Linked DNA regions of Homo sapiens: region 2 is linked to region 1. Evidence: fine-mapped expression QTL. A gene starts in region 1. The other region holds a variant in brackets. All regions are shown on one strand. Distances are between the middles of the regions. Region 1 holds the start of SLC35D2 (solute carrier family 35 member D2). Region 2 overlaps ZNF367 (zinc finger protein 367).

Region 1 (4,392 bases):
CGTAGTTGTAAGTACAGTGTGGATTGCTTTTTCTTACTTTAATTATGGCTTTTAAGGTTATAGATATTTAACTTCCTCATCGGGTTCATTACTACAGTGTTAAAAATATACTGCTGTGGATAAGTATTGAACTATTGCCACCCCATTTCCAGGCCTTAAATTAGGGTAATAAGGAAAAGGGATTTCATTTCACTTACATTTAGGATGGGTTGTCTCTGGGGTCAGCTCCTCAAGAATCCATTTAAAGCCTGTGTACTTTTCTAAGAGTCTAGCAAATTGGTTTTCTTTTTTCATCAGTTATTTTTGGTAGATCTTTAGTTGTGTATTTGCAGTGGCAAGGGTCAGCCTGTCCTACCCTTGTGCAGAAGAATATCACAAGCAACTCCTTAGTGTGAGTTGCTGTTTAAACAGGGTAAGGATGGGATTTTGACAGCGAGGTAAGGTCCTGGAAGTATGTGTATACAATCAAACTAAATGCAATTATGATGAAGGTCATCATTAAAAATAACTTTAAAATATTCTTTTTGCAGTCAAAACATTTGGAGACTCACAAGAAAATTGAATGTTCTGAGGAAATTAACCAAAATGACCGATTTCCTGTTTAACTTGAATATGGATTCATTTTCTCTTTTAAAACGGACTTAACATGTCTTTTCTTTCTTGTTTTGGGTAACTTGGGCACTTCTGGTCTTTTTAATGCTAGCTAATTTTCACGAGTTCTGCTTTAGTTCTTATCAGGGCTGAAAATGTTTCCCAGTTTTCATTCTCCTGGTTGTTTAGTGCCTAAGGGTAGAAAAACAATTCTCTGGGCATCTATATAGTTAGGCCCCAACTTTTATTTAACTTGAAATCTTAAGCTTTTCTAAGAAGCTAAAAGTTCATATATATATATATATATAATATACATTATATATTAAATATATAATATATATATTTTTGAGACGGAGGCTTGCTCTGTCGCCCAGGCTGGAGTGCAGTGGCGCGATCTCGCCTCACTGCAAGCTCTGCCTCCCGGGTTCACGCCATTCTCCTGCCTCAGCCTCCTGAGTAGCTGGGACTACAGGCGCCCGCCACCACGCCCGGCTAATTTTTTTTGTATCTTTAGTAGAGACGGGGTTTCACCGTGTTAGCCAGGATGGTCTCGATCTCCTGACCTCGTGATCTGCCCGCCTCGGTCTCCCAAAGTGCTGGGATTACATGTGTGAGCCACCGCGCCTGGCCAAAAGTTCATATTTTTTAAAGACTGACAAGGGTAGGCGGTTCTGGGAAGCTGTCCTTCAACTGACCTGACCCGAAGGCAAACGGCCCTCCGCGAGGAATGCACCTACCACAAAGCACCCAGAGGACACCCAAGTCCCAAGGCTTCACCCACCTTACTCCTAGCCACTCCACTCCTAGATATTTATTTAAGAGAAATGAAGACACAGGTCCCACAAACGCCCACGAATTTTCATGGAAGCATTTTTCCTAATGGTCCTAAACTGGAAACAACCAATGGATACACAATTTGTGATACTATTCAACGATTAAACAAACCACATGGTCGAGTCCAAAGCATAGAGTGAAAACCCCTGAGACCACATGCTCATTCATAAATTCTAGAAAGCACCCTGTTTATTTGAAATTCCGGAAAAGGCAAACCTAACCTACAGCAATAGTCATCGATGAGATGCGGGCGTTAACTTCAAAGGGGCAGCAAGGGGAATTTTTGGGGCGATGGAAATGTTGTTTTGAGTAGTTACTCCTGTGGATGCCTTTGTCGAAGCTCATCTCAAACTATGGACTGGCAAGATGTGTACACTTCATTGTATGTAAATTATACACTAAACAAAAAAGTTGTAGGGAAAAAAAAAAAAAAGCAAAACAAGCCCTGAGACTTACTGAAGCGTTTCTTTCCAGGAAAGCCTGGAGGAAGGCAGCGCTTTTCAACTCCCCAGCGCATTGCCGGCCCTGGAGACCGAAGGAGGTGCCTGGAACCAGGGTGAAGTCCAGCGCGCAGGGTCCTCCCGCGCCGGCCTCGGGCGCTCGCAGGGGGCGGGTCGGGACCTGGGATTGCGCCGGGCTCTTCCTGTTCCTGCCGCGCCCTCTTCCCCGGCCCGGCCGGGCGGGACCAGTGCGCAGCCGGGGCTGGCGGGCGGCGGGGTCCGCGGGGCCGCAGGAGATGACGGCCGGCGGCCAGGCCGAGGCCGAGGGCGCTGGCGGGGAGCCCGGCGCGGCGCGGCTGCCCTCGCGGGTGGCCCGGCTGCTGTCGGCGCTCTTCTACGGGACCTGCTCCTTCCTCATCGTGCTTGTCAACAAGGCGCTGCTGACCACCTACGGGTGAGGCGGGGCCCGGGGCCGGGGGGTCTGCGGGAGTGCGGGGCTGCCCCTGTCCTCCGTGCGCTTCAGCGGCGCCCGGGACAGGGCGGGTGGGGACAGGGACCCTCGAGTCTCAGCTGGGCACATTGGTCGAGTTTCCCAGGCGCCCTCCAGAACTCGCTCAGCTTTCTACACTCAGGCCACAACCTGAGAAAGTCGTTCTCTTCCTGAGCGCGCCTGCCCTGCTGCGAGGCGCCCTGTCCTAGGTGGGCTGGTAGAGCTCAGACAGATTCTTTCATACACCCAGCGAGCTGAAAACAGGGATTCAAATGCCTGCTTCAAAGGACGCAATTCCTTACACAGATCTCCATGTTCAACGGTCAGGTACTCCTGAGCCAGTAAGTCTGTATTGATTGACTGTTCATTCTCAGATGACCAGCGTGTTCATGGAAAACTCGGGAAAACAATTGGAAGTTCATATGGAGTACTTTTTTGGATTAGTGTGAAGTAAACGCAAATTTGTGCTGCCTTGAACCTATTTGTAAGGACTAGAAAATCCTGCTTAATTCTGCTACCATTGTAGCGGCACTGAGAAAATTGTGGATTTAGACCCAGCTCCACCGGTTAACACCTGTCTTTTTGGACCAGTCTCACAGTCAGCAATTTTTTTCAGATGCAAAAAACCTGAATGATTACAATCGTGTTAATTACCCTCCAGGGCTCTGCACGAGCTGTTATATGTGAAGGCTCTTTGTAAACTCTACTATGTTACAAGAATATGCCATCAACATTTTAGAGCCCAAAGAGACCTAGAGTGTCTTAGTTAGAGAGTATCTTAGAGTATCAGCTTTCTTTTTTTATATATACATACAGATTCAGCTTATGTGGGTCTCACTTTTCTCGAATATAAAATACGAAAGCTGAGGCTGGCTGAGGTGGTTTGCACCTGTAATCACAGCATTTGGGAGGCCAAGGCAGGCATATATATATATATATATATAGTGTGTGTGTGTGTGTGTGTGTGTGTGTGTATAATATTTTTTTGAGACAAGGTTTCACTCTGTTGCCTAGGCTGGAGTGTAGTGACACAATCATGACTCACTGCAGCCTCGACCATCTGGGTTCAAGCAATCCTTCTGCTGCAGCCTCCAGAGAAGCTGGGACCATAGGTGTGCACCACTGCACCGGCAATTTTTTTGATTTTTTGTAGAGGTGGGGTCTCAGTGTGTTTCCAAGGCTGGTCTAGGCCTGCTTTGGCCTCCCAAAGTGCTGTGATTACAGGTGCAAACTATCTCATCCAGCCTCACCTTTCTTATTTTATATTCGAGAAAACTGAGGCCCACATAAGCTCGATTGGTTGTACCTCCAACAGATATTTATTAAGCACCTACTAAATACTGAGCCCATTGCAAGCACCAGGGAAGCCTCTGTGAACAGCACAAGGTCCCTGCTCTGGAGATTCTGCTTCAGTGGTGGAGACAGAAAATAAACAGGTAGGTTCATGAATAAACGAGACACTTTCAGATCTGATGTGAGAGTGCCTGGGCTGGAGTAGCTGTCACAGAGCATTCCAGGTAGAAGTGAGCAGCAAGTGTACAATGTGCTGAAGTGGGCATGAGCTTGGCTGCTGGAGGAACAGAGAGAAGATCACTGTGCCTGGGCGGGGAGGTAGGCAGGGAAGGCAGGAGTCAGCTCTTTCTCTCATTTTTGATAGCTTTCACTAAGCACTTGTGATGTACCAGCACTGTTCGAGGAGAACAGTGTTTTCCCACCGTTCTTGGGAAAGAGAAGTGAAAAGAGCAGATCAGAATCCTTAACTTCACGGAGCTGCATCCTTGTGGACCAATAAATGAGCCAGTAACATTTACATTATGTCAGATGTGACCAAGGTGCTGGGGAAAAAATAAAACAGGAAAGGGAGTGAGGGAGAGAGGGAGGGGAGAGTATGCAGTGTGAGCGTGATCAGTGGAGCCTCAGAAGGAGGTGGCATTGGAGCCAAGACCAGAGTGAGGTGGGGACATAAGCCACACTGGGGGACGGGGGAAGAGCATTCCAGGCCTGGAGGAGTGAAGAGTTTGAATGGGAATGGTAGCA
Region 2 (4,392 bases), 30 kb before region 1:
GATCACCTGAGGTCCAGGAGTTCGAGACCAGCCTGACCAACATGGTGAAACCCTGTCTCTACTAAAAATATAAAAATTCGCCGGACGTGGTGGCGGGCGCCCGTAATCCCAGCTACTTGGGAGGCTAAGGCAGGAGAATTGGTAGAACTCGGGAGGCGGCGGTTGCAGTGAGCCGAGATTGCGCCATTGCACTCCAGCCTGGGGGACAGAGTGAGACTCCGTCTCAAAAAAAAAAAAAAAAAAAAAAAAAAAAAAAAAAAATGAAGAAACTAACGATAGAAGCGTTGATAGTATTGCTGAGTATTACTAAAGGCTACAGTTGCTGTTGGGCTGCCTCTAGGTATCCCCTAGTGAGATGTAAGATGGATCGGTATCCACCGGGTGGGTGGCTCACGCCTGTAATCCAAGCACTTTGGGACACCGAGGCAGGCGGATCACAAGGTCAGGAGATAGAGACCATCCTGGCTAACACGGTGAAACCCCGTCTCTACTAAAAATACAAAAAAAAAAAAAAAAAAATTGGCCAGGGGTGGTGGCTGGCGCCTGTAGTCCCACCTGCTCGGGAGGCTGAGGCAGGAGAATGGCGTGAACCCGGGAGGCGGAGCTTGCAGTGAGCCGAGATCGTGCCACTGCACTCCAGCCTGGGCGACAGAGCAAGACTCTGTCTCAGAAAAAAAAAAAAAAAAATTTGGATGGGTATCCTAGGTATTTTTGTGTTAACCATTTATAAGTTTTAGTCTTTTAAAAAAAACACTAAATTAGATTATGTAGTTGAACAATATAAAGGCATACATTCATAAGTTCTTGTGTAAGATTTTGCCTTTATGGTTTTATTCTTATAGATTAATCTAGTTCTGGATCACCCAAGAAGATTAATGTTATATAGATGAAATCTATAGGTATGTTGTTTTTGGCCTAAAACAGACTTGTCCTTACCCAGACATTTTATAAAAATTGCTAACTGTGGCCAGGCGCGGAGGCTCACGCCTGTAATCCCAGCACTTTGGGAGGCCGAGGCTGGCTGGTCACGAGGTCAAGAGATCGAGACCATCCTGGCCAACATGGTGAAACCCTGTCTCTACTAAAAATACAAAAATTACCTGGGTGTGGTGGCACACCCCTGTAGTCCCAGCTACTTGGGAGGCTAAGGCAGGAGAATCACATGAACCCTGGAGACGGAGGTTGCAGTGAGCCGAGATCGTGCAACTGCACTCCAGCCTGGCCACAGTGAGACTCCGTCTTAAAAAAAAAAAATTGCTAACAAGATGCATGGGTTTGAATTGTATTTCCATGCTGTACACCTCTTTTCAGAGGTAAAGTATACCAACGGTTGTAAAAAACATGTAAAAGTGAAATGGCTGTTTTATATTTCTGCTTTTTTCTTTTCTCATGTAGTTTTTCCTGTTGTAACTTTCATAAATTATTTGGTAAATTGATTTGAATATGTCTTTCTATTGATGAAGCAATCCACATGCAGCTCCAAAAATTCATTTATTTAGCTTTCCCACCGTAAGACAGAAGGGTCTGGAATACACCTTTATTTAAGAAAGTTGCTAGCTAGACTAAGCTTTGTGGGGGCAAGAAGGAAAAAGAAAAAAATAAGGAAGTTGCTTAGTTTGATTTGTGGTCAGTACACTGAACTACAAAGATAGAGAGTCCCAGCCTGTTTTACTGTTTTGCTTCTTTAAAGTACTTGTAGTTCCTTATCTCCATGTGCATCATCAGGGAATTGTGCTGAGTCTGCTCATTTTTGGGGAAGAGAGGAGACAAGTCTGCAATATAGCCAGTGCCAATAACATTCTCCCAATATGCCACATAGAGGCACTAACAGCTGTGGGTTTGAGAACAATATTTGCGTTCATTTACTGTCTATTCTTTGCCACTTCTCCCAGGGGAGGTGTCAGCGTCTGAGTCCTGCACACCCTGTGTCAGCTTTCTCTTGCTCTTTTGATTGTTCCTGCCCAACACTGCCTCCCTCGCCTGTGGGAACACCTACTAGCTTATTTTGGCTGCTCATCACACGAGTGCTTAGCACTGTTGGCATATAATTATATATTATCTTCTTCTGGATTGTAGAATTCTGAGAGGGAAGAAAGCAGGTCTAACTGCCTTCTGCCACAAGTTGTTCCAAGGCTCCCCACCTTGTCCCTGTGCCCTCTACTAAGACTGCATTTGAAGTTACTTCTTCACTGGGGCTGGTGGGGTCTGGCTTCTCAGATACTATTCACCCTACAGGATCTACCGGCTGCCGTATCCTACTTCCCCTTTCTGTGTCACCTGAACACTTCAAAACCTAGACTGTACATACTGTTACGAATAGCTGATTTTTAAATACTTTATACATAATACATAAATTCATAGTATTTATGAATAGTAATGTTTGAGCACCATGTTAAACCTAACATCATGTTAACATAGTAGGCACTATTTATTGCCTGGCACAGAGTAAGCATTTCATAATGTTAGCAGCAAACTGCTGGGCTCTGTGTTGAGCATTTTGAATTCTTTAATTCATTTTATCCTGTTTACCTGATGAGGAATGAGAAATTAGAGTCCCCAAGACAAA[A/G]TCTAGTTAAGATTGTATGGTAAGTGGCAGAACTGATCGGAACCTTCTAGAGTCCCTGTTCTTAGTCCCTATACTGCACTGCTCCTGGGACTATCACATGTAAATAGACTTCAGGGGTTTATTTTTGTTTTTTAAATATTAAGCTGAGATAAGTAGACATAAGAAATACATACTATTGGCCGGGCATGCTGGCTGATGCCTGTAATCCCAGCACTTTGAGAGGCCAAGGTGGATGGATCACTTGAGGCCAGGAGTTTGAGACCAACCTGGCCAACATGGTGAAACCCTGTCTCTACTAAAAATACAAAAAAATTAGCTGGGCATGGTGGTGCACACCTATAGTCCCGGCTACTCGGGAGGCTGAGGCATGAGAATCACATGAACCCGGGAGGCAGAGGTTGCAATGAGCTGAGATTGTGCCACTGCACTCCAGCCTGGGCGACTAAGCGAGATTCTGTCTCAAAAAAAAAAAAAAAAGAAAAGAAAAAGAAAAAAGAAATACATACTATGTATAGCTTATCTATGTCTCAATTGAGATGCTTTATAAAAGTGCACTCAATTCAATAAACTGGAATTAAAACTTGAGAAGTTGTGAAGATAGGTCAGGATGGGAAGTAGGTAGTTACAAGTTAGGAAGCATGTATGCAAGTCATGGGAAGTTTGTATCTAAATCTGAATGTGAAAAGGTTCACACGCCTCCCTCTGAGACCTATTTTTGTTTTCCTTCTAGGTTGTGCTTGTTCCCTTTATTTGAATTCTACTTATAAAAATGTGTCAAGGACTTTTAGGTTTTTTAGTTATCACATGACTAAACACTTTCAAAATCACTAATCAACCTTCTAGAGGTATGGAGATTGTTTTTAAAATTATAATTACTAAGGTATGCAAAAGTTTTTGGCAATTTAATAATTTTGTGTTGCGAATCGTCAACAGTCTTGACAAGATCTGTCCTTAGCCTCCAGGTGCACTTGGCTGCTGAGTGTAACACTCTGTAATTGTCCGAAGATGCCTAGAAACATGGTTTTCTCATTGTTAAGGCCAAAAGGAAGAGGGTCCTCTTTAAGTAACATTGCTTATTTTAATATGTATTGTTAAAAGATGGTCTTTATTCATTTATTTAGGGCATTATATGATTATTTGTTTTGTCTTATTTTCTGAGCTAAAATAATGCACTTATTAATTAGCTGGGCATGGTGACGCTTGCCTATAGTCCCAGCTACTTGGGAGGCTGAGGCAGGAGAATCGCATGAACCCAGGAGGCGGAGGTTGCAGTGAGCTGAGATCATGCCACTGTACTCTAGCCTGGGCGACAGAGCCAGAGTCCATCTCAAAAAACAAAAACAAAACAAAAAAACCCAAAAGAATGCACTTAGTGAACCCTTCCCTGTATATGGCCAGTATGTTGTATTATGCTGTATATTTCAGCACTCACTCCATTTCTCATTTGGAAAATATAAATGTGTTGCTGGTGGCAGAAACAGTCTCTTAGAGTTGCTGGGAGGCAGCCATATGGTTAACTTTTTTTTTTATGTTAACTAATCAGTTATTTCAAATTGCAAAAGTCAGCAATATGTTCTTGCATATTTATTTGTTTACTTATTTTTTATGTTTTTCAGACGAAGTCTCACTCTGTCACCCAGGCTGAGTGCAGTGGCACTGTTAGGGCTCACTGCAGCCTTGAACTCCCACTCTCAAGTGATCCTCCCACCTCAGCCTCAAGTGATCCTCCCACCTCAGCCTCCTGAGTAGCTGGGACTTCAGGTGTATATCACACCTGGCCTTTTTTTTTTTTGTAGACAGGGGTCTTGCTATGCTGCCCAGGCTGA

The links. PIP is the estimated chance that this variant, and not a neighbour inherited with it, causes the effect.
Region 2: its variant is the best candidate, but not a certain one, in a credible set for the expression of SLC35D2 in whole blood (TOPMed, PIP 0.50).

What each region holds. Positions count from the first base shown.
Region 1 is chr9:96,381,404-96,385,795 of GRCh38, reverse strand. It overlaps SLC35D2 (solute carrier family 35 member D2), which reads left to right and starts at 2,085. Exons shown (of 12, transcript NM_007001.3): 1 at 2,085-2,319. The coding sequence starts at 2,162. SLC35D2-HSD17B3 (SLC35D2-HSD17B3 readthrough) reads left to right here and starts at 2,085. Exons shown (of 26, transcript NR_182427.1): 1 at 2,085-2,319. RefSeq lists silencers at 2,097-2,426, 2,437-2,486.
Region 2 is chr9:96,411,349-96,415,740 of GRCh38, reverse strand. The region is part of intron 1 of ZNF367 (zinc finger protein 367); the gene reads left to right. Among named protein-coding and RNA genes, the nearest start is that of ZNF367, 4.8 kb to the left of the region's middle. RefSeq lists enhancers at 1,933-2,062, 2,366-2,535. The variant A/G (reference allele first, on the strand shown) is at 2,567.